6 separate regions of the Homo sapiens genome follow, and all the other regions are linked to region 3. The links come from fine-mapping of genetic effects on gene expression. A gene starts in region 3. Each other region holds a variant in brackets. All regions are shown on one strand. Distances are from middle to middle.

Region 1 (4,087 bases), 300 kb after region 3:
ATGTTTGTGAATATAAGCCCCTTGGGGCAAATCTTTTCACATATGGTCTTACAGCATTTCAAAAACAATTTATTTTCCCTCTTCTGAAGGAGGGATTCTTAGGGCCAGGCGCGGTGGCTCACACCTGTAATCCCAGCACTTTGGGAGCCTGAGGCGGGCGGCTCACTTGAGCCCAGGAGTTCAAGACCAGCCTGGGCAACATGGCAAAAGCCTGTCTCTACAAAAAATACAAAAATTATCCTGGCATGGTAGCTCCTAACTGTAGTCCTGGATACTTATGAGTCTGAAGTGGGAGGATCGCTTGAGCCCAGGAGGTCGAGGCTGCAGTGAGCCTAATTATACCACTGCACTGCGACCTGGGTGACAGAGCAAGACCCTGTCTAAAAAAAAAGGGATTCTTAAATATTTGTTGACGGGAATTGGAGAGGCATGAAGGAAGATGGGTTTTGGAGAAAGACTGACTTGGGATTGATTCACTAGGGTCCACTACGAGCTCTCTGCGTGACCCTGAATGAGCTATGAGCTGTCCACCTCCCTTTCTGACCTGTACAATGGGCATACCGGAAGTCAAGTCACTGGGTGGTTTTTGTTGTTGTTGTTGTTGTTGTTTTGTTTTGAGATGGAATCTTGCTCTGTCGTCTAGGCTGGAGTGCAGTGGCACGATCTTGGCTCACTACAACCTCCACCTCCTGGGTTCAAGCGATTCTCCTGCCTCAGCCTACCAAGTAGCTGGGATTACAGGCGTGCGCCACCACATCCAGCTAATTTTTGTATTTTTAGTAGAGACGGGGTTTCACCATGTTAGCCAGGATGGTCTTGATCTCCTGACCTCATGATTCGCCCACCTCAGCCTCCCAAAGTGCTGGGATTACAGGCGTGAGCCACTGCACCCAGCATGCTAGGTGGTTTTGAAGAGGCAGGAATGGGATGTGTGTGTATAGCACCTGGCATGGTGAGAGTCTGAGGCTAAGCTGTCGAGAGATAGAAGCTATTCCCAGCAAGCTCAGAGCAGGGCGTGGTATGCGTTTCTGAAATTAACGGCCTTGGAGGAAATTGACTTTCACCGCATCACCACGACGGACTGGGCCCACATTGTCTGTCTGTCGTGGGGAGATGTCACAGGGTACCCATCCCTCTCCCGTTTTGGAGAGAAGCCCGCAGGTCTGTGGTACTGAGGCTGCTCCGAGACCCCGGTTTATCGTGAGCAGTCATCGCCATGCGTCAGCTGGGACAGCACGGGCTGACTGTGGCAGACAACGGCAGTAAAGTTTTCCATGTGTAGGCTTGAAGCAAAATGTAATTAGCCTTTATGTGCAGAACAAGGGCCCATTGATGAATACAGCTGGTCTTTGTTTTGTCCTGTCGTTGAGAGTGGGAGGTAAAAGTGTTCTTCTTCATGTTTATTAATGCAAGATTCCTTAGACAAATGGCAAGCACAGTTTAATATTTGTTGGAACATGGGGGCTTTGCCAAAACAGTTGTTGTGTAAGAGGATTGCAAGGTTTCCGATTATAACCATTTCTGGGTTAAATAAATGAATTATTTCTGCCCTTTTTTTCTTTTTTGAAATTTTTTTAGAGTCAGGGTCTCACTGTGTTGCCCAGAGTGGTCTCAAACTCCTGGCCTCAGGTGATCCTCCCGTCTTAGCCTCTCAAAGTGCTGGGATTACAGGCATGAGCCACTACGCCTGACATTCTTTTTTCTTTAGTTAAAAACATAGCTCCTTCTCAGATGGTCACCCTGTGTACGGATCTTCCCGCTTCTCTTAGCAAATGGAGATTTACCACCCTAATAGCCTTAACCTTGGAGACTCTAGCAAAGGAACGTGCTGTGGATTTTAACATCTAAACAATTCCTTGGGATGGATGGCCGTGGAGGTGGCAGATCCCTGGAATCACGCAGCAGTAGGCAGCCCAGAGAGAGGCCTGGGCATCCCTCACTGCCCCAAGTTCCTGCATCCGTCTCCTGCAGCTGTTCACTTACTTGATCTTGGGTTTGGGTTGCTACTGCACCCTCCAGCAGGAATGTCGCCCTCCCAGCCAAGCGGCTAGTGTTCTGGGCAAAAATGCAGGAATTCCCATTTTTG[CT/C]GAAGTCCACGATCCTATGCCCTGTCCCCAAGAATCTGGATTGGAAAAGGAGTTCCAGCTGCAATACACACAGTCAGCTTCTTGCATTCCTCCCCACTCGTGGGCCGAGGCACTGAGCCTCGATGAAAGAAAATATTGAATCGCACTGAAATACTACATTTTTTATAGCTAATGTTAGTCTTAGGAGAATTTGCACCTCCCAAACCTTTCCTGCCAGTAAAATTCGTATTTCTTAAGGTTACTCATGTTGTATTCCTAGCCTATATGCTTTTTTCAAAGAACGACATTGTGTATACACATACTTACATAGTACGGTTACAAAAGAGACATTTACGAGGAACTTCACTTAGGTTAATTTTAGAGTATTTTCTTTATAACATGTATATAACCAGTACTTTATCACAAAATACAACGTGCTCTGAAACAGCAGAAAACTTTCCCGTAGCTAACTCAGCACTGGGGAGCCTCTACGCTTCTTTGGAGGGATAGAGAACTCCAGATCCCAAAGGAGGACATAAGACAGAATTTGAAAAGGGGAGGAGGCTGGGCATGGTGGCTCACGCCTATCATCCCAGCACTCTGGGAGACTGAGGTGGGAGGATCACTTGAGCCCAAGAGTTTGAGACCAGCCTGGGCAACATAGTGAGACCCCACCTCTACCAAAAAATACAAAAATTATCTGGGCATGGTGTTGTGCCTTTAGTTCCATTTACTTGGGAGGCTGAGTTGGAAGGTTCGCTTGAGCCTGGAAGTTCCAGCCTGTAGTAAGCTATGATTGCATCACTGTACTCCAGCCTGAGTGACAAAACGAGAGCCCATCTCTAAAAATAATAATAATAATTTTTAAAAGGAGGGGAGGAGGATACCAGCAGTTCAAGACACAAGTCTGCATGGCAAATGTGGGTGGGATGGATACTTTCTTTTTATTTTATTTTTTATTTTTTTGAGATAGGGTCTCTGTTAGTTATTCAGGCTGGAGTGCAGTGGTGCGATCATGGCTCACTGCAACCTCCACCTCCCGGGTTCAAGTGATTCTTCTGCCTCAGCTGCTGGAGGAGCTGGGATTACAGGCTTGTGCCACCATGCCTGGCTAATTTTTGCTTTTTGGTTTTTTTTTTTTTTGGAGACTGAGTCTCGCTCTATTGCCCAGGCTGGAGTGCAGTGGCACGATCTTGGCTCACGGCATCCTCCGCCTCCCGGGTTCAAGCGATTCTCCTGCCTCAGTCTCCCAAGTAACTGGAATTGCAGGCATCTGCCACCACACCCAGCTAATTTTTGTATTTTTAGTAGAGACGAGGTTTCACCATGTTGGCCAGGCTGGTCTCGAACTCCCAGACTCAAGTGATCTGCCCGCCTTGGCCTCCTGAAGTGCTGGGATGACAGGTGTGAGCAGCTGGGATGGATACTTTGTTTACATACTGTTCTGGACTATTTCACAATGATTTCCTGAGTGTTATCTTGTTTGCCCTTTCCTGAAGTCACTGGGGCAGCTTTTATTGTGCTCATTGCATGGATGAGGAAGCAGTCCCAGGAACACGCAGATTCAGGCCCTGGACCTGGTCCTTTAGGCTCAAATTCCAGTGCTTTTTGCTTGAGACCACGGCGGTCTTCAAAGCCCCTTTCTGGTGCCAGCTTTGTAATCAAGCAGCAAAGGTGAGGGCTAGTCAGGTGAAGGCAGGCGTTCCTGGGGGGTTCAGCCTTTCCCAGCCTCACAAGCCCCCGTTGTATTTACCATAGCAGATTGATTTTTCCCTTTTTGAACAATAATTCCTCATGAAAGACTCACAGAACTGGGGCCAGGTAGAGCCCGGTTGAGTAAACCTGAGAATCACCCAGCTGTCTTGACCATCATATTTAGACAAATATTGCATCCCCTGATTGAATTTGAAAGGGACAACTTAAGCATCCTGAAAACAGAGTCTGTCTGCTGTACCTTTAAGAATGTAAAATTTTCTATTTCCTGTCTTTTTGATGAGTCATCAGTTTCCAGTACGAGTTGC
Region 2 (4,087 bases), 220 kb after region 3:
GGGCGGATCACAAGTTCAGGAGATCGAGACCATCCTGGCCAACATGGTGAAACCCCAGCTCTACTAAAAATACAAAAATTAGCTGGACGTGGTGGCATATGCCCGTAATCCTAGCTACTCAGAAGGCTGAGGCAGGAGAATCACTTGAACCAGTGAGTCAGAGGTTGCAGTGAGCCGGGATCGTGCCACTGCACTCCAGCCTGGTGACAGAGAGAGACTCCGTCTCAAAAAAAAAAAAAAAAATACAAAAACAAAAAATTAGCTGGGTGTGGTGGGTGCAGGCCTGTACACCTAGCTATGCAGGAGGCTGAAGCAGGAGAATCACTTGAACCCAGGAGGCAGAGGTTACAGTGAGCCGAGATCGCGCCACCGCACTCTAGCCTGGGCAACAGATCAAGATTCCATCTCAAAAACAAACAAACAAACAAAAAACCCTACTAACAAACTAGGAATAGAGGGAAACATCTTAGGAATAGAGGGAAACTTCTTTAATGTGGTAAAAGGTATTTATCAGAAACATACATTAATCATCAGACCCAGTGGTGGTAAAAAAAAAAAAAAAAAAAATTCCCAGAAAACCAGGAACAAGACAAGAATACCTACTATTGCTACTTTAATTAACACTGTACTGCAAATCTTAGCTAGCAGAGAAGACAAAAAGAAATAAAGTACAGATAGCTCTTGACTTACGATGGTGCAACTTTAGGATGATGCAAAGAAACTGTACTTTGAGTACCCATACAACCATGCCGTTTGTCAGTTTCAGTACAGTATTCAATAAATTACATGAGCTGGTGAATACCTGATGATAAAATAGGCTTTGTCTTGGATAATTTTCCCCAACTATAAGCTAATGTAAGTCTTCTGAATATATTTAAAGTAGGCTAAGCTAAGCTATGATGTTTGCCAGGTTAGTTTATTAAATACATTTTTGACTATAATATTTTCAGCCTACAGTATAAGTATTGCAACAGAAGAAATCAAACTGTCATTTTTCAAGTGAGCCTCAATTATTTAACCAGGTTACTAGATACAAAATCAATATACAAAAGTAATTATATACCCCTGTATCAGCAGCAAACTTAAAAAGTCATTTTTAAAAAGGATACTACTGGAGATAGCCAGCCAAAAAAAAAAAAAAAAAACTATAGCTAGAAATGAATGTAACAATACAAGGGAAATCTTTCTAGAGAAAGATGTAACATTTATATTGAAGGATATTAAAGGAGAGTTAAATGGAGAGAGAGAAAGTATACAAGGAGAGAAATTTCCACTACTATTGAAGCGATCACTTTTCTCCAGATTGATCACAGAATCAGTCATTGTAGTTCCAGTAAAAATCCCAACAAAATTTTTTTTGTTTTGAGACAGAGTCTCGCTCTGTCACCCAGGCTGGAATACAGTGGCACCATTTCAGCTCACTGCAACCTCCACCTCCCGGATTCAAGGTTATCTCCTATTTGATCTAAAATCAAATTTTTCTGGTTATCCCTAAGATTTCTTTTGTAACGGCCCTCCCTGCAGCTGAGGTCCAATCAGGTTCACATATTACATTTGTGTAATCCCAAGTAGCTGGGATTACAGGCGCCTGCCACCACACCCAGCTAATTTTTGTGTTTTTAGTAAAGACGGTTT[C/T]GCCAGGCTGGTCTCAAACTCCTGACCTCAGGCGATCAGACTGCCTCTGCCTCCCAAAGTGCTGGGATTACAGTCATGAGCCACCGAGCCCGGCCCCAGCAAGAATCTTAATGAAACTTTTGAAAAGCTGATTCCAGAATTTTTATACATATGCAAGAACAAATGGTAAATAATAGTGAAGATAATACTGAACCACTCCAAGTTAGAGGAATTGCCCTACCAGATTATTAAAGCTGCAGTAGTTGGCAGAGAATGAGATAAATAAACCAAAGGAACACAATAAAGAAATCAGAATCTGGCCGAGCGCGTTGGCTCTTACCCGTAATCCCAGCACTTTGGGAGGCCAAGGCAGGAGGATCACTTGAGGTCAGGAGTTCCATACACCAGCCTGACCAATATGGTGAAACTTCGTCTCTACTAAAAATACAAAAATCAGCCTGGTGTGGTCACGTGCTCCTGTAGTCCCAGCTACTTGAAAGGCTGAGGCAGGAGAATTGCTTGAACCCGGGAAGCAGAGGTAGCAGTGAGCCGAGATTGTGCCACTGCAGTCCAGCCTGGCCCACAGAGTGAGACTCCATCTCAAAAAAACAAGCAAACAAACAAAAAAAAAAAAAAACACCGGAATCTGGCCTATGCATATATATAGAAGCTGAATAAATTGCAAAGATGGTATGGATCAGTGAGGAAAGGGGGGACTTTTCATGGTCCTCTGACGATTGGCAAATCCTTATAGATTAAACGAAGTTGAGACCGAGTGCACTGGCTGCTATCTGTAATCCCAGCACTTTGGGAGGCTGAAGCAAGCAGTTCCCTTGAGCCCTCGTGTTAGAGACTAACCTGGGCAACATGGTGAAACCCTGTCTGTACAAAAACTTACAAAAATTAGCTGGGTGTGATGGCACACGCCTGTAGTCCCAGCCACTTGGAAGGCTGAGGTGGGATGATTGCTTGAGCCCACAAGTTGGAGACTTCAGTGAGCTGTTGATCGCGTGCCACTGCACTACAGCCTGGCTGACAGAGCAAGATCCTGTCTCAAACAGACAGGCAAACAATTAACTAGAGTTGGAGCCCTACCTTACACCGTGTGGAAACACAAATTACAAGGAGAGTCTTAGATCAAAGCTTTAAACTTTATAGAATAAAATATAAAAGATGATGACTTTGGGCTGGGTAGAATTTCTTTCTTTTCTTTTCTTTTTTTTTTTTTTTGAGACGGAGTTTTGTTCTTGTTGCCCAGGCTGGAATGCAATGGCACGATCTTGGCTCACCACAACCTCTGCCTCCCGGGTTCAAGTGATTCTCCTGCCTCAGCCTCCAGAGTAGCTGGGATTACAAGCATGCGCCACCACGCCCAGCTAATTTTGTATTTTTAGTAGAGACAGGGTTTCTCTGTGTTGGTCAGGCTGGTCTCGAACTCCCAACCTCATGTGATCCACCCACCTCGGCTTCCCAAAATGCTGGGATTACAGGTGTGAGCCACCACGCCCGGCCCTGGGCTGGGTAGAATTTCTTAAACAGAAAACCATAAAAGAGATTGTTGCAGTAAACTACCTTAAAATTTTTAAATAGGAGCTTTTTTCATGGAAAGATACCCTAAAGAAAGTGGAAACATGGCCGGGTGTGGTGGCTCATGCCTGTAATCTCAGCACTTTGGGAGGCTGAGGCAGGCGGATCACTTGATGTCAGGAGTTTGAGACCAGTCTGGGCAACATGGTGAAACCCTATCTCTGCTGAAAATACAAAACTTAGCTGGGCATGGTGGCACATGCCTGTAGTCTCAGCTACTCGGGAGACTGAGGCACGAGAGTTGCTTGAACCTGGGAGGTGGAGGCTGCAGTGAGCTGAAAGCATTGCAGTCCAGCCTGGGCGACAGAGTGAGACTCTGTCTCAAAAAAAAAAAAAGCAGAAAGATAAGGCCAGTACACTGCTAGCTCCATGGTATGTTCATGTGAACTAGAAAAAAGGTTTGCCGTTCTCAATACTTTTCACATCACCTGTTGGAAACTTGCCATAATAAAGATTCATACTTACCTCAGTGTTTACCGTGATAGATTCAGACATCCAGAATGTGAAGCATACTGTCTAGGGCTGTGCATCCCACCGTTGTATGTGGGGTAACCTTGGCCATGATTTACAAATCTGGAAGAGGTAGTTGTCACACCTGTAATTAACAATGTTCACAAGATATTCAAAATGCTCGCATGTCAATGGGGGGAGAAACCCAGTAAGGAAATGAGTACAAGTCATGAGCATAATTGTCAGAACATTGGAATGGTCAGTAGCTATATGAAAAGATGTCTAGGTTGCATAATAACCAGGGATATGCAGATTAAAATAACTCATCTGCAAGTTATTCCTCCTGACCAAGTTGGCTAAAATTAAAAAGTCAAGTTAGGAGCATAAGTTGATTTAAACTTTTTGAAAGCCAATTTGGCATCTGGTGATAAAGACT
Region 3 (4,087 bases):
GGGGCCGCGCGCGCGAGGCCGGGCCGCGGCCGCCGCGCCCTGGGGCTGCGACTCCGGCTCCGGCTCGGGCTCGCCATGGCTGCGGCGGTGCCGTGAGGAGGAGTCCGCGTCCTCGGTGGCGGCGGCGGCGGCCGGCTCCAGGCCGGGTTTTGGCGCCGCCCGCCTGCTGCCTCCTGGCGGCTCCTGAACTCCAGCCCCCTCTCTATCAGCCGCTCACTCCGTCTCAATATGTCTCAAGATGGCGGCCAATGTGGGATCGATGTTTCAATATTGGAAGCGCTTTGATTTACAGCAGCTGCAGGTCAGGCTCCTCCGCGCTCGGCCTCGCGCCCGGGGGTGGGGGCTGCGGGCGGTCGCGGCCTCCGCCGGGGGCCCCGGGCTGGCCCAGCCGCCGGGGGGCCCGCGGCGGCGGGGAGGAGGGGGGTGCCGGGCACCGCGGGGCCGAGTCGGGGCCGAGTCCCTCCCGCTCCCCGGCCCCCATTGATCACTCGCTTGATCGGAAATTGATCCTCTTTGTTCAATTCATCGATCAGCCCAAGATGGCGCCGGGAGCCGCCGCCGCCACCACTGCCCCCGGTGTCTGCCCCCACCCCGGGCGCCCCCCCGGGCCCCGCGCCGCCGCCGCCGCCAGCGCCGCCGCCGCCGTTGCCGCCGCGGGACCGGGGAGGGGGCGGCCCCGGCGGCCCGCGGGGTGCGCGCGCGAGCGGGGAGCGGGGAGCGGGCGGCGGGGGGCGGGCGGCGGCGGGCGCCGGGAGGGGGCCGCGGCCCGGCGGTGGCGCCCGCCCGCCCGCTCGCCCCGCGCCCCCGGCCCGCCGTATTCCCGGGGAAAGTTTGTGGGGAGTTGCTGCGGGGGGTGAAGCGCCTGCCTCTCCAGGAGGAGCCGCCGCCACTGCCGCCGGCGCGGCGGAGCTGGGGCTGGTGGCGCTGTGGTGCCGCCGGCTCGGGGGAGGGTCAGAGCGGCCACCGGCGGCGGCGGCGGCGGCGCGGCCCGGCTCCGGCCAGGCGGGCGGGTGGCCGGGCAGGCGCCCGCGCTCGCTACCCCCGGCCGGCCCCGGCCGCCGCCCCCGGCTGTCACCGGCCCGGGCCGCGCCGCCGCTCCGGCACCCCGCGTGTGGCTCCCGGCGCGGACCCCCGGGTTTGTTTACGTCCCGGGGAGCGCCCCGGGGCCACCCGCGCACCTCGCGGCCGCCGCGCTCTTTTGTGTGCCTGTGTCGGTGACGCGGACCTGTTCCTCCGTGGCGGACCCCCGCGGGGGCTCTTTGGGGAAACTTGGCGAGGGGCGGCGGGGGTGCCCCGCGCGCAGTGTCGCTGGGTCCCGGTGTCCCGGACCGCCGGGTGCGGGCGCGGGAGGAGGAGGCTGCAACTTTCCCCTAGGCAGGCCCCAAGCTGTTCCCCCGGGTGCCCGGGCAGTGTACGCTGCCTCCCCGCCGCCGGTCCGAGCCGCGATCGCCGCGCGCCTGGGGGCTCCGGCGGCCCCCGGTGACCTGCGGCGCCGGGTCCCTTCCTTGCGTCCCCTCGGGGCTTCTGCCCTCTCTGCAGGGCCCGCCATGGAGCGCGCGGCGGGTGCGCTCGGAGATGCCTTCTCGGGCCGGGTTCTCGAAAGCAGAGCCCCGGGGGCCCGTTGGGACCGTGGCATGCCGGGCGGTGGTCCGCGCGCGGAGTCCCCGGCGCCGCGGGGGGACCGTGCCGGGGCTCCCCGGCCCGCGCCCGAGTCGCCGCCGTGCCCAAGGGGCGAGTGCCTGCCTGCCACCCCCCGCCCGGAGGAGCGGCGCACCCTTAGGGTCCGCCCCGCACGTGCCAGCTCGGCGCCCGCGGCGCCGGGACAGCCCCGGGACTCTGCCAGGTGGATGTTGTGCGTAGCCGGAGCCAGGTTGAAGGTGAGCGGCGTGTGGGCCAGAAGTCCCGAGGTTGCAGGCGCGGAGGGAACCGGGGATGTCGGGGGGTGCCCGGGTCCCGCGGCTTAGAATGCTCTAGGGCGGCCTGGTGCTCTGGGAGGGGATAGGAGGGTTCCTCAGGGCCCCTGGGGAACTGCAGCTACTCCCAACTGCTAAGGTGTGCGTGAAGATAAACTTGGCTGAACTTTCCTAACCTGGAGGACTGGTGACAGTGACCTACCGCAATACCTTTGGGAGCAAAGCTCGAGATGCAGGCTTGTATCAAACGAAGCGGGTTGGATTAAAACATATTTAAATGGAATCTGACAACTTTAATTGTATATGCTTGTTTTCTGCTCTTGCCTACTAAGAACGATAAAGCCGAGTCATAGTCGTTATGAAATTTCCTGAAATTTCTCGCTTAACTAGGAAGAAGACTATGCGAAATATGTATTTCCGATAAGATTAAAACTTAAAGGAGTTTAAGTATTTATTGACTAAAATAGATTACTCCAAAGTGTCTATTGTGTAAATTAGATTCCTGGATGTAATGAACACAGCCGAATGGCATTTTTGATAAATTGGTCTACCCTGTTTTAGTAAAAATAGCTCCCTTTTACCATAATTTAATTCCTGTGCTTACTGTAAAACCCGTTGTGGAGTTTTAAGGACAAACATTATTATTATTTTTCTCTCTTGTCTTCCTAAATGTGACATCCTAGCTTAATATCAATGAAGTGTCTTTTTTAAAGCATCCTGGCAAAATTGCCTGGAAAATGGATTTGGTTTCTAGAGTTACTAGATTTTAAGAACTCTAAACCTTCCTGTCCCCCATATTAGCTACTTCTTCAGGGGATCAGGGCTCCAGGGTTCCATCGAAAGTTTCCATGTCAGTTTACTTGCACTTTATGTGGATATTAAGAAGAAATCAAAACCAAACCCCAAAACAAAGTCCCTTATTTGAACTTCATTCCTCTTTACTCCTTTGCTTTTGGTGGTTGCTAACGATTTGGCCTTAGATGATTTCCTATGGGTTTGCAAACTTTAGTCGAATACGGAATGTCAAAGTTCAAGTCTCAGGCCAATCTGGTTCTTTCTCTGGGCGGTGAGGAGGCCTTTGGAGTTGGTGTCTGGTTAATTCCCACCGATAGTCAGTGAGTCAATAGAACGAGTTTGGGAGAGAATTCATTAGTTCCAGATTTTTCTCATTTTTCCAGACCTCTTTATACTGAGATTGGGTTGCCACCTGGGGGTAAAGAGGCTGATCGGTCTTTGCAGAGAGAAATCCAGGTTGGAGACGTCAGCGGGTCCAGGTGAGGTTGGGCCGTTCCGCAGTTCTGCAACCCTGGCTCACTGGGTTCTTGTCCCTCGGCTTCCTGGGTCTTGAAGCTGCTGCCTTGGCACAGGAGTGTGTGCTCAGGAAGAGAATTTCTGAAGATTGTGTTTTATTCCGTTTCCTTTTTAGTCCCAAAGGCTTGTGGTATGGAAGTTTCAGTGCTTTGGTATTGCTAAGACTAGTTGGACAAGTTTTTTATCCTATCTCAGACTTGTAAAAACCAGGTTTTCTTTTCTTTTTAAATAAGAAAAGCACTGTTGTATAAATTTGTCTTTTAAATACATATTTGAAAGGAGGACACTTTCTAAGACAAAGCTCATGGCACTCTGTATGTTAGTGGAGCTTTGAACTCTTTGGGACGGGGCCCGCCAATGACTGCCTTCCCTTTGGGACATTATTCCCACATGGTGACCAGCCTTCCCCTTTAAGCAGCTTCTGCAAAAGTAAACTTGAAAAGTTGCCTTCTTTTTCAGAATCAAAAAACAATTTCAGTTTTGCTGAAAGTCCATTTTCTGATGGCTTTTTTTCCCCCTGTTGTGGAAGTGTGTATGTTACTGGCTGTCCAGTACTGTTTGCCATAATAAGTATATTATTTTAATTAAAATGTCCCATCTAGTACCCTTTATAAAAGAGCAGTTCAAGAAATTACACCACTGCTGCTCCTGCTTTTGTTTTCTTGGTTCTTTTAATATGGGTGTCTTTGAGGTTGGATGTGGGAAGGGGTCATTGGCAGTTGATTTAAGTTTTTTCCTATGTGAAACTCTTTTTTTCCTTAAAGGTGCAAGTGGTGAGTTAATGCAACAACTCCTGGTACAGTTGAGTCCACAGAGAGCCCTTTGACTACATCCTCGGCTTCGTGTATCTTCTGTCGGTAGTT
Region 4 (4,087 bases), 89 kb before region 3:
ACCAGCCCTGGCAGGGACTAATGAGGGCAGTAGCCTCTCCTTGGAGGAGCCAGAGAAAGCTTTGCCAGAGAGGTCACAGGAAAGCCAGTCTTGGAGGGGTTTCATGAGCAGAAAAGGCAGCTGGGACGGTCAGCCAGCAATACCTCTCCAAGATGTAGCACTCACACTGCACCGTAATCATTGGGTTCAGACCAGGCATGGTGGCTTACGCCTGTAATTCCAGCACTTTGGGAGACTAGGGCAGGAGGATCACTTGAGACCAGGAGTTTGAGACCAGCCTGGGCAGCATAGCAAGATCCCACCTCTAAAAAAAAAAAAAAATTAGCCAGCCATGGTGGCACGAGCGAGTGGTCCCAGCTACTCGGGAGGCTGAGGTGGGAGGATTGCTTGAGACCAGGAGTTAGAGGCTGCAGTGAGCTATGATTGCACCACTGCACTCCAGCCTGGGTGACACAATGAGGCCCTGTCTCTAAAAAATAAAAATTAAATTAAATTAAAAAAAATAATCCGGTTTAGTGTCTGCCTCCTCCATCAGACTGGAAACTCATGGAAGGTGAATGACAGGGGCTGAGGTGCAAGTTCAATCAGCCTCTGGCCCTGGGAGGAGGAAAGGGAAAAAGCAAGTTAGGGGATGGGACTGTAGTCGCAGCTCAGAGGCCCTGGGTGCCTCTGACACTGAGGCAGAAACAAGGGGGAGCATTAGCTGGATTTCTATCCTACACGTGTCAGCGGACGTGATGGTTTCAAACTGAAAGTGAGCAATTTGTGGGTCCTTGGGCCACACCTATGAAAGGCTTTTTTATTTTTTATTTTTTGAGACAGGGTCTGGCCAGCTATTTTGTTGTTGTTGTTGTGGAGATGGGGTTTCACTATGTTGCCCAGGCTGGTCTCGAACTCCTGGCTTCAAACGATCCTTCTGCCTCTGCCTCCCAAAGCACTGGGATTCGAAAGGCCTTTTATGTGAAACACTTGTGACCCACCAAAAATCCCATTGTAAGTCCTGTCGCTCTGACAAGCATCATAATCGCGCATCTGTCCAGAATTCTGCATTTAGGAGGAGGCTTTAAAGCCCACGTGCTCAGAGCTACGGTGTAGACCCTATACTCCACCATCCTGCCACAGGATTCAGGGAGCAGCTGGAGGTAAGATAATTGTAGGCTCCAGGCTCTGCACCCTGGGTGGGATTAGCATTAGTCAGTAGGTTTCTCTGTTCCCTCAATCTCCCCGCTCCCGGGACTTGCAAAGCAGTGAGAGTGGGCAACATGCCGTGTAACACAGTTAATTACACGTTGATTGCATTGTGCTGTAATTACTGTTCAGGCGTGTGGGGCTCCTCACCTGCACTGGATCCTGGAACTCAGAGAAAGAAGCTTCTGTCTCCTGTAATCCCAGCACTTTGGGAGGCTGAGGTGGGCAGATCGCTTGAGGTCAGGAGTTCAAGACAAGCCTGGGCAACATAGCGAAACCCTATCTCTACTAAAAATACAAAAATTAGCCGGGCGTGATGGCAGGTGCCTGTAATCCCAGCTACTCGGGAGGCTGAGGCAGGAGAATCGCTTGAACTCGGGAGGAGGAGGTTGCAGTGAGCCGAGATGCCACCAGTGCACTCCAGCCTGGGTGACAGAGCGAGACCCTGTCTCAAAAAAAAAATTAAAAAAAAAATTAAAATTATAATAAAAATAAAATTGATTGTAGAAATTGCACTAATGGATACATTAGAAGCCATTGAATTGTATATTTTTAATGGATGAATTGCATGGTATGTGAATTATATCTCAATAAAGCTATTACTTAAACAGGAGAAAACAAAAAACCCCAGCGACAATCTTCCTCAAGCTCCTTGGCAATAGGAGGCCTTGCCGTCCCCACCCAGCCTGCCTGAGTTCCTGCTTACAGTTGCTTCTTTTTTTTTTTTCCTTTGACACGGGGTCTCCCTCTGTCACCCAGGCTGGAGTGCAGTGGCGCAATCTCATCTCACTGCAATCTCCACCTCCCGGGTTCAAGTGATTCTCCTGCCTCAGCTTCCTGAGTAGTTGGGATTACAGGCACCTGCCATCATGCCCGGCTAATTTTTGTATTTTTATAGAGATGGGGTTTTACCATGTTGGTCATGCTGGTCTTCAACTCCTGACCTCAAGTGATCTGCCTGCCTTGGCCTCCCAAAGTGCTGGGATTACAGACGTTAGCCACTGCTCTCAGCTGCTTCTTAAATGCGGCTGGGGCCAAGCAGAAAAATGGCCCTCTCTCATGCTAGGCAAACGCAGAGCCCACTGGACAGAGTTCCCTGAGATCGAGGCAGGGATGACGCATGGCTGCCTTGTGACCAGCTATCTCTCCGCTCTCTGGTGAACTATCCCAAGCCAGACCGTGGTTTTGTAATTTGAAGTCCAAGGCCGTGAATCAACATAATCTACTTATCAAGACCAAAGGCTGCGGTCGCCGTGCATGTAGAAGGAATAGCTCACAGTGCGTGGCGCCTTCATGCC[G/A]GAGGGCTGGGCCACACCCTGGTGCACACTGGGGGTGGTGCCCAAGGATCCTGCTGGACTAACCAAACACAGCCCTGGGCCACACCTTCCCACAGGCCTCTCAGCCCTCTCAGCTCTTCCACTTGGAGCCTGAGAGTCTGACACCCCCCACCTCACCCCCAGTCAGCTCTGTGACTCCCAGTGCTCTGGCTTTGGGATTTGTTTTGTTTATTTTAGAGACAGCGTCTCTCTCACTGTGTTACCCAGGCTGGGGTGCAGTGGCGCCATCATGGCTCAATGCAGCTTTCAACTCCTGGCTCAAGTGATCCTCCCACCTCAGCCTCCAGGGTACCTGGGATGACAGGCATGTGCCACCATGCCCAGCTAATGTTTTAAATGTTTTGTAAATGTAGGGGGTCTATGTTGTCCAGGCTGGTCTCGAACTCCTGGCCTCCAGCGATTCTCCCACCTTGGCCTCCCAAAGCCTTGGGATTATAGGTGTGAGCCGCCGCACCCAGCCTGGCTTTGGCCTCGGCATTTACGTTATGTTGTAAAACACAAAACTTCAATCAGGGCCAAGTCTTTCAGCTTAAAACCCTTCAGTGCCTTCTGGGGATAAATACTGAGCTCTTGGGCCCAACTTGGTTTGACCCCTGGGAGTCCTACCCCTACTGGGAGCCCCCACAGCTCATCCTCCCCATGGCCCCTTCACTCCAGATACATGGGTCTTATTTTAGCTCTTTGGTTTTTTGTTTGTTTGAGATGGAGTCTTGCTCTGTTGCCCAGGCTGGAGTGCCGTGGTGTGATCTCAGCTCACTGCAACCTCCGCCTCCCGGGTTCAAGTGATTCTCCTGCCTCAGCCTCCTGAGTAGCTAGGATTACAGGTGCACGCCACCATGCCCGGCTAATTTTTGTATTTTTAGTAGAGACGGAGTTTCACCACATTGGCCAGGCTGGTCTCAAACTCCTGACCTCGTGATCCACCCGCCTTGGCCTCTCAAAGTGCTGGGATTACAGGCATGAGCCACCATGCCTGGCCTATTTTAGCTCTTTATAGTCCTCCTGTCCCCTCTTACCTGTGAGCCTCTGGGTAACGTCTTCAGCCTGTTATCTTTGCATCCAGCTAATTAGGTCACTTATTCCTACAGAAACCCATCTTTCAAGGAATGGCCATCCCTGCCAAGGCCACTGAGCCCTGTTGACCCTGGACTCTCTCCTGTCTCTTCCCTGGTGCTGGCCAGTGTGTCCACGTTGCTGTGATTGCTGAATTAATGTCTGTCCCTCCCTCCAGGCCGTGCATGATGACACCCCCTGTAGCTGCCATGGAGCCCAGCACCCAGTGGATATGCAAAAAGCCCACGTAGGCCGGGCATGATGGCTCACGCCTATAATCCCAGCACTTTGGGAGGCTGAGATGATCACTTGAGGCCAGGAGTTTGATACCAGCCTGGGCAACATAGTGAGACTCCATCTCTACAAAAAATTTAAAAATTAGCCACTCATGCTGGCGTGCACCTGTCATCCTAGCTACTTGGGAGACTGAGGCAGGAGGATCACCTGAGCCCAGGAGTTCCAGGCTGCAGTGAGCTATGACTGCACCACTGCACTCCAGGCTGGCCAAC
Region 5 (4,087 bases), 25 kb before region 3:
GAGGGAAGGGCTGAGCTGCTCTAAAGTCACAAACAAAGGCCACAGCAAATCCTGTGAGGTCCCCGGAACTGCGTTCACCCATCAGGGTTGTCCCACCCTGAGGCATGGGGACTGGGCCTTTATAACCCCTACACTGAGAAGCCATAGATGTTGGCTGCCTTCGGGGAGGGCCATGGACTTGACCAAGGTGGCTGTCTTTGGGGAGGCTATATTTGCAAAAGGACTCAGCTAAAAGCTGTTAGCCACCAGCATTCCCAGCAGCGGGGCACTGAGGGTGTCAGTCCTGAAGGAATGACGGGCAATGCTCCACCCTCCACTGTGCAGCCAGACCTACTCCCCACCTGGTCAGAGAGAGGAGCCTCACCTCGGAGGAGGGACCTGTGCCCTTGGCCTTATAGCACAGAGAAAACAAGAGAAAGCAAACTTGTTTCCAAAAGACCATCATAAAAATACTCTTTGTTGATTTTTCTTTTTTTAATTAAAACATGTTTTGTTTTGTTTTTTTTAATTATCAGTCATAGAGATGGGATCTCACTATGTTGCCCAGGCCGGACTCGAACTCCTTGTCTCAAGCAGTCCTCCTGCCTTGGCCTCCCAAAGCTCTGGGATTACAGGTATGAGCCACAGCACCCAGCTCCCTCTTGTTTTTAAATCGTTTTCCCCTCCCCTTCTCCTGTTTGAAGGCAACATGGCACAAGTCTTACTCTTGAAGCAGCAGCCTCTCTGACCGTAGAGAAAGAAACATCTGTGGAGAGTTTTCAAATGGCAAAAATAATGACAGTAATCAGCCGTCTTGTTACTTCTTGGGGACTGGGTGAAGTCAGTCCTTATTCAAAGAGATGGAATTTTCAGCATGGTTCCAATATGTCTTTTAATGGTTACACACATAGGTCCCTGAAAAGTATCCATGAGAAATAAAAAGAGCTGGGCTGTTTCTTTGAGTATTCTTTCAGCAGAAAAAAAAGAAAAAAGAGAAAACTGACTTGAGGGTATTGCTAAAAGATTTTCTGGTGTGGTTTTCTTTTCTTTTTCTTTCTTTTTCTTTTTTTTTTTTTTTTTGAGACAGGATCTTGTTCTGTCACCCAGGCTGGAGTGCAGTGGCATGATCACGGCTCACTGTAAACTTGATGTTCTGCACTCAAGTGATCCTCCCACTTCAGCCTCCCGAGTAGCTGGGATTACACGCACGTGCTACCATGCCCAGCTAATTTTTGTATTTTTTTGTAGAGACAGGGTTTCGCCATGTTACCCAGGCTGGTCTCAAACTCCTGGGCTCAAGCAATCTGCCCTATTTGTTTTCATTTGAGGGACAGGGCATCATGTACTATTTAATAAAAAAAAAAAGCGCCAGGCATGGTAGCTCACCCCTGTAATCCCAGTACTTTGGGAGGCCAAGGTGGGAGGATTGCTTGAGCCCAGGAGTTCAAGACCAGCCTGGGCAATATAGTGAAATCCTATCTCTACAAAAAATTTAAAAATTAGCCAAGTGTGGTGGCAAATGCCTGTAGTCCCAGCTACTTGGGAGGCTGAGATGGGGGGATCGCTGGAGCCCAGGAGTTCCAGGCTGCAGTGACTGGTGATCACACCACTGCACTCCAGCCTGGGCGACAGAGCGAAACCCTGACTCAAAAAAAAAAAGGAAAAAAAAGAAAGAAAGGAAAACAAATTGGATCATCAAATTGTCTGAGTCACCTGAGAAACCACAATTTAATGCCACCTTTCGATACCCAG[A/T]GTTCCTATCTTTGAATCAAATTAAGTAGAAAAACAAGTTAAAAAAAAAATCCTTAAATAATTATGGAGGTGGGCAGAGGGTTTTTTTTTTTTTGTGATCGAAATGGTTGATAATGCTTGTAGAAGAAAGGAAAAACATCTCATATAAAAATTTAATCTGAATGTTTTTGTTGTTAAAAGTCTCCTGTGAATCATGAATTATGAAAAACATGACCCAGGAAAGCTGTGAACAAGTTGATTCAAGTATCTCAGGCATGTGATGATCTCACGCCCCAGTCCAGCTTGGCTTCTGGGACGGTTAGGATTTTATCAGGTTCAGGGAACACTGATGGCCTAATTCTGGCTCCAGGCCTCACCCGGCTCTTTTCACACTGGCGCCAGATGTTTGGGAAGTTTTCAGGAAATTGTGGAAAACCAGACCTCAGGCTGGTCACCTTCCAGCAAGGTAGGAGGTGGCTGGTATGGTTTTCCCATTATTTTTTTCTTTTCCCTTTTTTTTTTTTTTGAGACAGGGTCTTGCTCTGTCACTGAGGCTGGAGTGCAGTGGTGTGATTTAAGCTGACTGCAACCTTGACCTCCCAGGCTCTAGCGATTCTCCTTAAGGATTGCAACCTCAGCCTCCCAAGTACCAGGGACTACAAGCCCACACCACCACACCTGGCTAATTTTTTTATTTTTTGTAGAGACGGTGTCTTGCTATGTTGCTCAGGCTGGTCTCAAACTCCTGGGCTCAAGCAATCCTCCCACCTCAGCCTCCTAAAGTGCTGGGATTACAGGCGTGAGCCACCGTCCACAGCTGCTCACCCATTCTTAAATACAAAAGGAGACCCTGAAAATAAACTGTACAGAGGGATAGATTAGACCTCATGACCCTTGACCTTTAACTCTTCACTGAGGAAGGAGCCCGGCTCCTTTTTTCCTACCTGCACTCATCAGACATTTATTACACGTGGTGGGGCGTGGTGGCTCACAGCTGTAATCCCGGCATTTTGGGAGGCTGAGGCGGGTGGGTCACCTGAGGTCAGGAGTTCGAGACCAGCCTGGCCAACCTGACGAAACCCCGTCTCTACTAAAATTACAAAAAATTAGCTGGGTGTGGTGGCGCGTACCTGTGATCCCAGCTACTCGGGAGGCTGACACAAGAGAATAGCTTGAACCCGGGAGGTGGAGGTTGTAGTGAGCCTAGATCGCGCCACTGCACTCCAGCTTGGGCGAAAGAGCGAGAGTCCGCCTCAAAACAAACAAACAAAAAGACATTTATTAGATGCCTACTATGTGCCAGGCCTGTAGAGAAATATGACAAGGTCTCCGCCCTGAGGTGGAGCTCAGGTCAGTGGAAGAAATTGGAAAATAACTGAAACACAGTGAGACCAACAGACTGCAGGCAACATCCGATTCTGAGATGAAATCCATGTGACGTGCTCTGAGGGCCAAAGGATAGCCTTGGCCTGGAGAGTTGGGCACCCTTACAAAGTGGGACAGAAGACATGCCCGTCCCTTGCATGGAGTGATTAAACCCCGGGCAAAGAAAGGAATCAGTGATGACTCTGGTGCCTGGGACGTTCAGATGCGGGTGGATGTTAGAAAACGCTTTAACAACTGTCCAATCAGAAGGGAGGGGCCCTGACCAGTCATGGTGGACGCTGGCCATTAAAGGACTGTGGGGCCCTATTGGTGTACATGGTGTCTGGGGAGCAGGGAGGAGGGAGGATTCTGGAGGGCTGGAGCACTGATGGAAGGATAGAGGCTGAGACTGGAAGTAGGGGCTTAGAGCTTAACTCCAGGGAAAATAGCGAGGAGCGTGAAAGACTTGCCGGAGAGAGGCCAGGCGGGGCACAGTGGCTCACGCCTATAATCCCACCACTCTGGGAGGCTGAGTCAGGTGGATCACATGAGGCCAGGAGTTTGAGACCAGCCTGGCCAACATGGCAAGACCCTGTCTCTACTAAAAATACAAAAATTAGCTGGGTATGGTGGTGCACACCTGTAATCCCAGCTACTCGGGAGGCTGAGGCCGGAGAATCGCTCGAACCTGGGAGGCGGAGGTTGCAGTGAGTTGAGATTGCACCACTGCACTCCAGCCTGGGCAACAGAGGGAGACTGTCTTCAAAAAAGGGAAAAAAGGAGAGATGCCAGAGGTAAGCATTTCAGGAGGCTCACCCAGGTGGCCCTGGAGAATGGCCACTGGGTGACTTGGTCCCTAGATCCTGTGAACTTGAGAGTATAGAACCCAAGGGGGAGGGAATGAAGGGAAATGAAAAGCAGAAGCAGGTTGGGAGCGGTGGCTCACACCCATAATCCTAGTGCTCTGGGAGGCCGCAGATCACTTGAGGCCAGGAGTTTGAAACAAGCCCAG
Region 6 (4,087 bases), 240 kb after region 3:
ACACCTGTGTTTTCTTTTAAGAGGTTTTATAGTTTTAGCTCATATATTTTGGTCTTTGATTTATTTTGAGTTAATTTTTGCATATGGTGTGAGGTAGGGATCAAACTTTGCTCTTTTGCATGTGGATATCTGGTCGTCCCAGCAACATTTGTTGAAACACTGTTCTTTTACCCTTGAATTGTCATGTCACTCTTGTCAAAAATCAGTTGATCATAATATGAGGGTTCCTTTCTGGGCTGTATTGATCTGTGTGTTTATCCTTATGCCCCTACCAGTTCAGGTCAATGTAGTTTTGTATTTAGTATTGAAATTGGGAAGTGTGACTCCTCCAACCTTGTTTCCTTTTTCAAAATTATTTTGGTTATTTGGGGTCATTGCATTTTCATATGAATCTTAGAATCAACTTGTCAATTTCTGCAAAGAAGCCAGCTGGGTCTAGGCACAGGGGCTCTTGTCTGTGATTCTAACACTTTGGGAGGCCAAGACGGGAGGATCACTTGAACCTAATAATTCAAGACCAGCCTGGACAATATAATGAGATCTCATCTCTACAAGAAAAAAGTTAAAGATTAGCCAAGCATGGTGGCGCGTTCCTGTAGTCTCAGTTACTCCGGAGGCTGTGGCAGGAGGATCACTTCAGCCTGGGAATTGGAGGTTGCAGTGAGCTGAGGTTGTGACAGTGCACTCCAACCAGAGTGACAGAGTGAGACCCTGTCTCCAAAAAAAAAAAAGCCAGCTGGAATTTTGATAGGCATTACCTTGAATGTGTAAATCAACTTCGTGACTATTGCCATCTTAAAAATATTAAGTCTTCCAATCCATAAGCATTGGCCATCTTTCCATTTAGTTTAGTGTCTTTCAGCAGTGTTTTGTGGTTTTTAGAGCACAAGTTTTGTATTTCTTTTGCCAAATTTATTCGTAAGTATTTTATACTTTTTGTGATGCTATTATAAATGGATTTTTTTTTTTTACTTTCACTTTCAGATCATTTATTGCAAACATGTAGAAAGACAAATGTTTTTTTACAGGGATACTTTGTTGCATTGAGCTCCACTTTTTTATGCTTTGAAGATAGTGTGTTTCTTCAAAAATGGAAGTCTGTAGCAACCCTGAGTCAAACAAGTGTGTCAGCATTATTTTTCCAACTGCAGGTGCTCACTTCCTTTCTCTTTGTCACACTTTGGTAATTCCCACAATATTTCCAATTATTCACTATTATTATATCTGATATGGTGATCTGCAGTCAGGGAGCTTTGATATTACTATCATAATTGTTTGGGGACACCACAAACTGTGCCCCATATAAGATGGCAGACTTAATTGATAAATATTGTGTGTGTTCTGACTACTCCACCAACCAGCTGTTTCCCATCTCTTCCTGTCTTTGGGTTTCCCTATTTCTTGAGACACAACAATATTGAAATTAGGCAAATTAATAATCCTGCAATGGCCTATTAAGTGAAAGGAACAGTCACATGTCTTTCACTTTAAGTCAAAAGCTAGAAATGATTAAGCTCAGTGAGAAAGGCGTGTTGAAAGCTGAGGTAGGTTAAAAGCTGGACTTCTTGCACCAGTTAGCCCAGTCATTAGTGCAAAGGAAAAGTTCATCAAGGATATGAAAAGTGCTGCTCCAGTGAACACATGAATGATAAGAAAGCCTTATTTCTGATAGGGAGAAAATTTTGGTGATCTGCATAGACGATCAAACCAGCCACAACATTCTCTTAAGCCAAAGTCTAATTCTCTTAATTGGGTCTTAATTGTCTCAAGCCAAAGCCCTGACTCTTCAATTCTATGAAGGCTGACAGAGGTGGGGAAGCTACCGAATAAAAGTTGGAAGCTAGCGGAGGTTGATTCATGATGTTTAAGGAAAGAATTTATCTCCATAATACAAAAGTGCAAAGTAAAGCAGCAAATGCTTTGGTGGAAGCTGCAGCAAGTTATCCAGGAGATCTAGCTAAGATAATCAACGAAGATGATGGCGCTACACAACAGATTTTCAATGTAGGTAAAATAACCTTCTCTTGGAAGAAGATATAATCTAGGACTTGCATAG[G/T]TAAAGAGAAGTCAGTGTCTTGTCTTTAAAGCTTCCAAATGCAGGCCGACTCTCGTTAGGGGATAATGCAGCTGGTGACTTGAAGTTGAAGCCATTGCTCATTTACCATTCGGAAAAATCCTAGGGCCTTCAGAATTAAGCTACACCTACTCTGCCTGTGCACTAGAAATGGAATCATAAAGCCTAGATCACAGCATCTGTTTATAGCATGTTTTACTGAATATTTTAAGCACACTGTTGAGACCTACTGCCCAGAATAAAAAAAGGTTCTTTTCTTTTCTGAGACAGTCTTGCTCTTGTCACCCAGGCTGAAGTGCAATGGCATGACTTCAGCACACTGCAACCTCTGCTTCCCAAATTCAAGTGATTCTTCTGCCTTAGCCTCCTGAGTAGCTGGGATTACAGGCTCCCACCACCATGCTCGGCTACTTTTTGTATTTTTAGAAGAGATGGGGTTTCACTATGTTGGCCAGGCCAGTCTTGAACTCCTGACCTCGTGATCCGCCTGCCTCAGCCTCCCAAAGTACTGGGATTACAGGCATGAGCCACCACACTCGGCTGATAAAAAGATTTTTTGTTTTTTGTTTTTTGTTTTCTGGTTTTTTTTTTTTGAGACAGAGTCTCGCTCTGTCACCCAGGCTGGAGTCTAGTGGTGCGATCTCGGCTCACTGCAACCTCTGCCTCCTGGGTTCAAGTGATTCTCCTGCCTCAGCCTCCCGAGTAGCTGGGATTACAGGTGTGTGCTACCACGCCTGGCTAATTTTTTGTATTTTTATTAGAGATGGAGTTTCACTGTGTTAGCCAGGATGGTCTCGATCTCCTGACCTCGTGATCCGCCCGCCGCAGCCTCCCAAAGTGCTGGGATTACAGGCATGAGCCACCGCGCCTAGCCGAAAGGTTCTTTTCAAAATATGACTGCTCATTGACAGTGCACCTGGTCAACAAGAGCTCTGGTGGAGATGTACAAGATGAATGTTGTTTCCATGCCTGCTAACACAACCTGCATTCTACAGCACATGGATCAGGGAGTAATTCTGACACTCAAGTCTTATTTTTTAAGAAATACATTTTGTAAGGCTATAGCTGCCATAGATGGTGATTCCTCTGATAGATCTAGGCAAATTAAATAGAAATCCTTTCCTTCTGGAAAGGAGTCACCATTTTAGATTCCATGAAGAACATTTGTGATTCATGGGAGGGGGTTGAAATAGCAACATGAACAGGAGTTTGGAAGAAATGGATTCCAACCCTCATGGATGACTTTGAGGGGTTCAAGGCTTCAGTGGAGGAAGGAACTGCAGATGCGGGGGAAATAGCAAGAGAACTAGAATTAGAAATGGAGCCTGAAGATGTGACTGAATTGCTGCAACCTCATGATCAAACTTGAATGGATGAGGGGTTGCTTCTTATGATGAGCAAAGAAAGTGGTTTCTTGAGATGGAAACTACTCTTGGTGAAGATGCTGTGAATATTGTTGAAATGACAACAAAGGATTTAGAATATTCCATAAACTGAGTTGATAAAGCAGTGACTGGGTTTGAGAGGATTGACTCCTATTTTTTAAGAAGTTCTACTGTGGGTAAAAATCTATCAAACAGCAATGCATGATACACAGAAATCTTGTGTTAACGAAAGAGTCAATCAAGCTAGCCAATTTCATTGTTGCCTTAACAAATTGCCACAGTCACCCCAAGCTTCAGTAACCACAACCCTGATCAGTCTAGCAGCCATCCAACACCAAGGCAAGACTCTCCACCAGCAAAAAGATTACAACTCCCTGAAAGCTCAGATAATCGTTAGCATATTTTGGCAATAAAGCATTTTTTAATTAAGATATGTACATTTTTGAGACATAGAGCTATTACATACTTAATAGACTATGATACAAACATAACTTTTATATTCACTGGAAAATCAAAAAATTTATGTGACTTGCTTCATTGCAATATTTGCTCTTTTTGTCATATTTGCCTTTTTTGTTCTATTTTTGAGACAGTCTCCGTCACTCAGGCTGGAGTACAGTGGCACAAT

Direction of the effects. Alleles are on the strand shown, and positions count from the first base shown. SD is a standard deviation of normalised expression in the study named. Not every link is listed here.
As copies of C replace CT in region 1, the expression in tibial nerve of the gene that starts at base 1,834 in region 3 goes down (small effect, 0.18 SD a copy in GTEx).
For the expression in fibroblasts of the gene that starts at base 1,834 in region 3, allele C in region 2 goes with a higher level than allele T (small effect, 0.18 SD a copy in GTEx).

Evidence for each region. PIP is the estimated chance that this variant, and not a neighbour inherited with it, causes the effect. A credible set is the group of variants that fine-mapping cannot tell apart.
Region 1: its variant is the best candidate, but not a certain one, in a credible set for the expression of CUX1 in tibial nerve (GTEx, PIP 0.88).
Region 2: its variant is the best candidate, but not a certain one, in a credible set for the expression of CUX1 in fibroblasts (GTEx, PIP 0.66).
Region 4: its variant is the best candidate, but not a certain one, in a credible set for the expression of CUX1 in whole blood (INTERVAL, PIP 0.59).
Region 5: its variant is the best candidate, but not a certain one, in a credible set for the expression of CUX1 in whole blood (INTERVAL, PIP 0.61).
Region 6: its variant is the best candidate, but not a certain one, in a credible set for the expression of CUX1 in whole blood (INTERVAL, PIP 0.88).

Annotation. Positions count from the first base shown.
Region 1 is chr7:102,118,154-102,122,240 of GRCh38, forward strand. All of the region lies in intron 8 of CUX1 (cut like homeobox 1), which reads left to right. Among named protein-coding and RNA genes, the nearest start is that of SH2B2, 170 kb to the right of the region's middle. RefSeq lists an enhancer at 1,024-1,523. The variant CT/C (reference allele first, on the strand shown) is at 2,087.
Region 2 is chr7:102,034,526-102,038,612 of GRCh38, forward strand. All of the region lies in intron 3 of CUX1 (cut like homeobox 1), which reads left to right. Among named protein-coding and RNA genes, the nearest start is that of CUX1, 220 kb to the left of the region's middle. RefSeq lists a silencer at 2,144-2,346. The variant C/T (reference allele first, on the strand shown) is at 1,636.
Region 3 is chr7:101,815,793-101,819,879 of GRCh38, forward strand. CUX1 (cut like homeobox 1) reads left to right here and starts at 1,834. Exons shown (of 24, transcript NM_181552.4): 1 at 1,834-1,877. The coding sequence starts at 1,848. RefSeq lists silencers at 29-258, 844-1,003, 1,114-1,433, 1,504-1,583, 1,614-1,683 and 1 more and an enhancer at 90-1,018.
Region 4 is chr7:101,727,138-101,731,224 of GRCh38, forward strand. No RefSeq gene overlaps it. Among named protein-coding and RNA genes, the nearest start is that of CUX1, 88 kb to the right of the region's middle. The variant G/A (reference allele first, on the strand shown) is at 2,487.
Region 5 is chr7:101,790,526-101,794,612 of GRCh38, forward strand. No RefSeq gene overlaps it. Among named protein-coding and RNA genes, the nearest start is that of CUX1, 25 kb to the right of the region's middle. The variant A/T (reference allele first, on the strand shown) is at 1,732.
Region 6 is chr7:102,054,253-102,058,339 of GRCh38, forward strand. All of the region lies in intron 3 of CUX1 (cut like homeobox 1), which reads left to right. Among named protein-coding and RNA genes, the nearest start is that of SH2B2, 230 kb to the right of the region's middle. The variant G/T (reference allele first, on the strand shown) is at 2,057.